2 linked regions of the Homo sapiens genome follow. The protein of the gene in region 1 purifies or fractionates together with the protein of each later gene. This does not show direct contact. Each region holds a gene or a part of one and is shown on either strand. Other genes may lie near its edges.

Region 1 (3,411 bases):
GAGCCCCCTTGCCTGGCACATGTTTTGTACGGACAGGACGGGCTCCCCGACAGGCACGAGTCACCTGCACCTTCCCAGCGAGGCTCACCCTGGCTGTGCAGTGAAGGTGGACGCTGCCAGGCTTCTCCACATTCCTTCTCTTCCGTTGTAACTCAAGAGCATTTTTGCAAAGAGACTTGGATCCTATGAAAATGTCCTCTTCCTTATCAGGCTCACCTGAAACTCGTTTATTCTATCAATACAGATTTGAGGTTTCCTGCCTTATTCTTAAAGTCCCCACCATCACTTTGTATGTGGCTGACAGAGGCCCCTTGGGGCTGGCGCTGTGTCCCTGAACATCCCTGTCATTCTTTGGACACCCTTGTAGAATTCTCAGCACAAGGCGCTCTGGCTCTTTTGGGGTGTGGCTCGGCTGCTGCTGCCTGGACGGGGGCTGCCACTCTAGACCAGCTGCCCAGCACCCCGAGGGTCCCGCCGCTTGGGACTGGGGCCCAAGCAGGTGTGCTGAAGGCCTGGCTCTGGGCCAAACATGTCTCGCTGGCTCTCAACAGAGAACTATAGTGTCTTTTCCAAGTTTGGCTCATTTGTATACCTGTTGATCACCTGGTAGACTTAGTTCCCCTTTCCAGCAGTCCGGCGTCTGTTGCCAATCACATAAAAGTCGACTGGTGTGAGATGACCCAAGTTTTTGCAATGTACATGTTCATTTTTAGGGGTGGCTTTCCGGAGTCTGTTTTGAGTAAGAAAAGTGGGATCTGGCCAAGCTCTGCCTAGCCCTTGTCAAAGATATCTCATTCACCTTCCTCTGGCCGCAAGGCCCAATGTCTGGGCCCACTCTGGGCTCATATTTCTGTAATAACAAAAACTGTCTTTTATCATGGAAGCAATAACTGAGGGGTGTGTGAGGTTTAAGTAGTTTGACACCAAGGTCAAATGTTGTGTCTGTTTCTTATTTTACACACATGGATTTAACAAATAGGTACAGCTGCCCCTTCCACACCGCCCCAGGATCTGTTCTCAGTGGGAGGACAGCGCGAGGCCTTCTGCGCAAATCCCGTCCTCAGCACCTGAGGCTGTGAATCTCAGACCATTTGCCGAAACACACGTGTGCAAGCGCTCAGTCGCTGCCCCCCAGCCTCATCCTCAGGTTGCTCCTGATACCTCGGCCACAATTGCGTGAGGTCTGGAAGCCAGGGAGCGTTTGTGTTCAGGGCGGGGCGGCATGCAGCCCCCAGCCCTTTCTTCCAACTCCCGAGTGAGGATCACTCAGCCTTGCTTGGACGACAGATGCTCAGAGTTGAGTGGAGCCTTGCCCAGAGCCCAGCGCTCGCGGGCTGTACCCATCCCTGCCAGACCCAGAAAGAGGCCCAGCTGCAGGGAATCAGGGAAGCCCAGGGCTGGGTGGGTGTCGGCCCAGAGCCCAACCACGGGGTGGGGAGGGGGCATCCACAATCCACAGTCTCCGGGGGACGTAACCGCGCCCTGCTGGCTTCAGTACGTTTCAGGAGACGGCAGCGAGGCTACCTTGCATGGTGTGGTGGACGAGCTGGTGCGGTTCCGGCAGAAGGTCCGGCAGTTTGCGCTGGCCATGCCCGAGGCCACGGGGGACGCCCGGCGGCAGCAGCTCCTAGAAAGGCAGCCCCTGCTGGAAGCATGCGACACCCTGCGCCGGGGCCTGACTGCCCACGGCATCAACATCAAGGTGAGTGCCGCACCAAGGTCAGGGACATCACCCCAGGAGCCGGGTAGGTCAACAGGACGTGGGGCCATCAGAGGCCCAGACATCCCCCGTGACCATGCTTTTTTTTTGAGACGGAGTTTCACTCTTGTCACCCAGGCTGGAGTGCAATGGCGTGATCTCGGCTCACCACAACCTCTGCCTCTGCCTCCCAGGTTCAAGCGATTCTCCTGCCTCAGCCTCCTGAGTAGCTAGGATTACAGGCATGCACTCCCATGCTCGGCTGATTTTTTATTTTTAGTAGAGACAGGTTTTCTCCACGTGGGTCAGGCTGGTCTCAAACTCCCGACCTCAGGTGATCCTCCCACCTCAGCCTCCCAAAGTGCCAGGATTACAGGCGTGAGCCACTGCGCCCTGCCCATGCTTCTGAGTAGAGAAACCCACCCCCATAAAAAATGAGGTGGGAGGGCCGTGAGGGAGGGGCCAAGTTGGCTGCAGGGGACGCTGAGCACGGGGACGTGGGTCCTGCTCAGCCCCCGCCACCTCCTGCAGGTGCCTTGAAGCTCCTGGCCTTCTGCTGGAGGTAGTGGGGCCCTTTCTAAGCGCCTGGCAAGCTTTTTAGGACAGGCCGGTGAGGGAACAGGCACCCTGAACCTGATTACGCCTGTCAGCCCCCTGTGCCACATGACGTGGTGTCTGCTCAGAGTTGGACCTCACTCTTCTTCTCCAGGACAGAAGCAGTACAACATCCACGTGGGAACTGCTGGATCAAAGGACAAAAGACCAAAAATCAGCGGGCTGAGGATGGAGCACAGCCATGAACCTGCTCACGACAAGACGCACCCATGCTTCTCAGGGTCAAGGCTTTATGTTAAAGCTTCCTGTCGGGGCTGCTAGGTCAGCATTAAAGTAAGGCAACCAACAGTGTCCCACTGGCGTCTGTTTGTTAGTAACTGAGCCTAAACACTCACTGCGTTCTGTGGCTACAGACTCACCGTCGATTGAGTGAAGTAGTGTCAGACATTCAGTAGCATCCAGCAGCACACGTGCCTGTGCGTGAGACCTGCTGGCCCTGTGCCCAGGGAACAGACAACACAGCCAACAGAAGAGCAGGGACCCCGGGAGGCGGCAGAATGCAGCCTGTTTCCTCCTGAGGGAGGGGCTGGGGATGGGTGAGGTGGGTGGGCCACGCAGCATAGTCTGAAGCAGAGGTGGGACGCCAGCAATGCTAACCCCGGGACACCTCCCCCAGCAAGAACACAATCTTACGTTTTCTCTCTGGTTACAAAAGTAACGTATTCAGCATAGGAAAAATGCAGCTGAGAACCCGTCTGCAGTCCCGCTGCAGTTAACATCCTGGCAGCTGCAGGCCATCTTGGTGGTCATGGTCTGTGCAGAGCAGTGATGGGGTCGAGCTGGGCCTGGGAAAGGTTGGTTCCGGAGGAGTCAGGGCAGCCAGGCTGAAAGCCAGCTGGCGAGCTGTGACAGACAGGATTCCTGAGCGGGAGGTGGCGGCCAGCACACGGCAGGCTGCCTGGGCTACAGGACCGGTGGCCTCCTGAAGCACCCACCTTGCTCCTGATCTCACCCTTCTGTGGTAAGCCCAGCGCCACAGCTGTCAGTGACTCAGCAGGGTGACCCCTCTCCACTCTTCCTGCTCGCAGACCCTGGGCCAGGCCTCTCCCTGTCACACTGGCATCTCTGAATCCCAAGGGCACAGGCAGCAGCGGGAC
Region 2 (3,811 bases), on another chromosome or scaffold:
TAGTGACCCCCTGGTGTAGGTTCTTGGGGAGCCATGCCATTCTGCCCTGAAGCCTCCTGTTAGGCTGTTCATTCAGAATCAGAAACTGGCAGAGTGGACTTTGATCTTTCAGTTTTTTTTTTTTTTTTTTTTTCTGTCGCCCAGGCTGGAGTGCAGTGGCATGGTCTCGGCTCACTGCAACCTACATCTCCTGGGTTCAAGTGATTCTCCTGCCTCAGCCTCCCGAGAAGCTGGGATTATAGGCATGTGCCACCATGCCCGGCTAATTTTTGTATTTTTAGTAGAGACGAGGTTTCACCATGTTGGCCAGGCTGGTCTCGAACACCTGACCTCAAGTGATCCGCCTGGCTCGGCCTCCCAAAGTGCTGGGATTACAGGCATGAGCCACCGCGCCTGGCCATTCTTTCATTTGAGGGGAATTGTCTTACTGATGTTAAAACTGGGTCTAGAGATGTGGCTCTCACAGTGGAGTGAGTCCCAAAGCCAGGACAAGAACTTCAGGTCCCCACCTCCTAGCCCAGGACCCAGGCTTCAGATCAACTTTCCGCAGGGGAAAGAAATAATGGTAGCAACAACAGCTTGCTCAGCTCCTTTCTATCTATCGTTTTGATCTTTACTGCCTTGGCCCCACCCTGGTGCTGCCTATTCACGCAGGTGCGTGCTACAGATGCCTCAGGGGCTTCTACTCCTGCCTGATATAAAAGCAAAGAGGCTGAATTTTAAATCAGGTGTGAGATCTATGCTTAAACTCATCTCTGCTGTTTGCCTGCTGTGGGACCCTAGATCTCTTTTTTTCTGAATTTCAGTTATCTCATCTATAGAGTGGGATGAGGGTAAGAATACCTCACAGCACTGTTGCAAGGATCAGATGTGCCTTAGTTACTATAGGTTGAGTGTCTCTTATCCAAAATGGGACCATTTTGACAATTTCCTTCCCTCCCTTTTCTTTTACCCACCCCAACTCCCTTCCACCCCCAAGAAAACACTTTACTCTCCTACTCGAGCATATAGTCACGATAGCCATGGGGGCAGACATCTACAGTGGCAGAAGCACATGGATTTTGGATTTTTTCGGATTTGGGGCTATGTATATTATACTTACTGGTTGAGCGTCCCTAATCTGAAAATCCGAAATCAGAAATGCTCCAGTGAGCATTCCTTTGAGTGTCATCTTGGTGCTCAAAATGTTTTAGATTGTGGAGCATTTTGGATTTTGGAAATGAGGGATATTCAACCTGTACTTCCTTAGTTATATAGTAAGTACTGGAAGTGGTTCAACTACTCTAAGTGGTTCCCTTCCTTCCCTAGTTATTTTATTTATTTATTTTTTGAGACAGAGTCTCCCTCTGTTGCCCAGGCTGGAGTGCAGTGGCGCCATTTTGACTCACTGCAAGCTCCGCCTCCCGGGTTCATGCCATTCTTCTGCCTCAGCCTCCCGAGTAGCTGGGACTACAGGCGTCCGCCACCACATCCAGCTAATTTTTTGTATTTTTTAGTAGAGATGGGGTTTCACCATGTTAGCCAGGATGGTCTCGATCTCCTGACCTCGTGATCCGCCCGCCTTGGCCTCCCAAAGTGCTGGGATTACAGGCGTGAGCCGCCATGCCTGGCCCCTTCCCTAGTTCTTTTTTGGGGTTAGTTATCAGTCTCCTTTGTCTGTCTCTTTCCCCTCCTAATCTTGAAGTTCAATGAAAAGACAGGAGATGAAACAAAGAAGGAAGTGAACAGGGACTGTGCTCAGAAGTATTATAGCATCAGCCTGCTAATGGCTTCCTCTTCCCTTATCTGTACTCCCAGGCCATCCTGACTTGGGTGGGGTAACCCGAGATTACCATTCTGATCACAGGATTCTGCTCCAGACAAGGGTGGCGGAGCTGCGGTGCCTGGGTCCTCTCGTGATCCCCAGGACAGCCTCTCCCTCCTGGGAGCTTGGAGCCACCCCTCGGTCTCCATGGGTCCAGAGAGAGGCCACCCTGGCTAGAGAGGGGGCTGGGAGGGGTGGCCTCGAGTTGGGGGCCAGAAGTCGAGGGCTGGCTGTCTTTTTTTTTGAGATGGGGTTTCACTCTTGTTGCCCAGGCTGGAGTGCAATGGCATGTTCTTGGCTCACTGCAACCTCTGCCTCTCGGGTTCGAGCGATCCCCCTGCCTCAGCCTCCCGAGTAGCTGGGACTTCAGGTGTGGGATATCACGCCCAGCTAATTTTTTGTATTTTTTAGTAGACATGGGGTTTGACCATGTTGGCCACGATGGTCTTGATCTCCTGACCTCGTGATCCACCTGCCTCGGCCTCCCAAAGTGCTGGGATTACAGGCATGAGCCACTGCACCCGGCCCGGTCTTAACTGTTTCTGAGCTGAGAGGTCACTAGAGAACTGAGAGAATGGTAGCTTGTTCTGGCCCCTCCTTGGGAGAGGGTGTGTGCTGGTGTCTATCACTCAGAGAGTGGGCGGGGCTGGGAAGGGAAGTTCCAAACCCATGACGAAGAAGAGGGCTGTTCTGGGGTGGAGCAGGAACTTTCTTGGCTCTGGGGTTTCCTTGTCTGTCAAATGACCAGGTGAGATCCAAAGTCTAAGCCAGCTCTGATATTTTAGTGTTTAGATCCCTGTGGCTTCATCCTCTTAGTCCCAAAGTCCAGGCTGATGGAAGGATATTTAGTTGATTCTGGGCCCCCTTGGTGCAGAATCAGGCCTGGTGACTTGCCCAGACACTCCTGGGTGTATCTTTTTACTCATTTGCTCTCGTGGCTATGAGGTCAGCTGTGCCCTGGGGTAGGAGGATAAAGTGTTTTCTTGTGGGGGCAGATAAAGGAAAAGGGAGGGGAACAAATCGTCAGATCTGGGCTGTGCTCCTGCGCCTGCTGGGTGGGGTTTCCTGAGATGTGCATTCTGAGCTATTTTTTTCCACTCTGGGCATCCGTCTCTGGCAGGGAGGAGGGCAGGCTGCCTGGACCAGTCAGCTGCTCCTTTCCATCCCTCCCTCCAGTACACATACTCTCCTCTTGCTGTAACCCCAGTAGCTCAGGCCTCCTCTGCAGATTCCGGAGCCTTAACCCTTCAAATACCCCCAGGAGAGCCCCAGCCGGGGCCTCAGTAGGCAGACAGCAGGATTACCACACTGAGAGGGCTCCAGGGGAGGAGGTGCTTCCGCCTCTGCATCTGAAAACCTTGACACCCAGCAAGTCCTGCTGTCTGAGCTCACCCACTTGTGCCGCTGCTGTGGTAGAAAGCAGGGGCTCTGGTTCCTTCCTAATGGGGGACTGGGGCCCTGAGAGAGGAGCAAACTTAGATCTATAATGGGCAAGGATAGGGCACAGTCTGAATGCCTTGATAACAGGCATTGTGAGGCAAGGAAGAATGTTCTAATCGAGCTGTCTGCAGACAAGGGGCTTGCTCCATGTTGCTGGAGTTCCTTCAAGCAGAAGGTGGGCCAGACACAGTGGCTCATGCCTGTAATCCCAGCACTTTGGGAGGCCTCGGTGGGTGGATCACTTGAGGCCAGGAGTTTGCCAGCCTGGCCAACATGGTGAAACCCCGTTTCTACCAAAACAAAAAGAAAAACAAAAACAAGCAGAAGGTGAATGCCTACTGTATTTTGGGAAAATTCAGGCTTCCAGTGGGGACCTTAAAGTCCCTGCAGACTGTGAGCCCCTCTAGTAGCTGCTGGCAGAACCCAGATCTGATTTCTAGTCCTCACTCTGTGTCAGTCTCGTGATCTCTCTCCCCTTCTCCCTCCTTCCCTTACCCTCCATTCTTCTCTAGCCTCCACCCTTAGACATAGCTACGAAAGTAAACACTGACCCTTTCCCCCTTTGCT

Evidence for each region.
Region 2: the proteins of CARS2 (region 1) and TMBIM1 fractionate together in Homo sapiens (co-fractionation; one large-scale study listed by BioGRID). This does not show direct contact.

The regions. Positions count from the first base shown.
Region 1 is NC_000013.11:110,640,606-110,644,016, reverse strand, and holds the end of CARS2 (probable cysteine--tRNA ligase, mitochondrial), read left to right. Parts: intron 1-36; exon of another isoform or gene 37-684; intron 685-1,495; coding exon 1,496-1,702; intron 1,703-2,408; coding exon 2,409-2,480; 3' UTR 2,481-2,600; downstream 2,601-3,411. UniProt on the Homo sapiens protein: Mitochondrial cysteine-specific aminoacyl-tRNA synthetase that catalyzes the ATP-dependent ligation of cysteine to tRNA(Cys). In addition to its role as an aminoacyl-tRNA synthetase, has also cysteine persulfide synthase activity.
Region 2 is NC_000002.12:218,285,948-218,289,758, reverse strand, and holds part of TMBIM1 (protein lifeguard 3), read left to right. Parts: intron 1-2,461; exon of another isoform or gene 2,462-2,552; intron 2,553-2,978; exon of another isoform or gene 2,979-3,419; intron 3,420-3,811. UniProt on the Homo sapiens protein: Negatively regulates aortic matrix metalloproteinase-9 (MMP9) production and may play a protective role in vascular remodeling.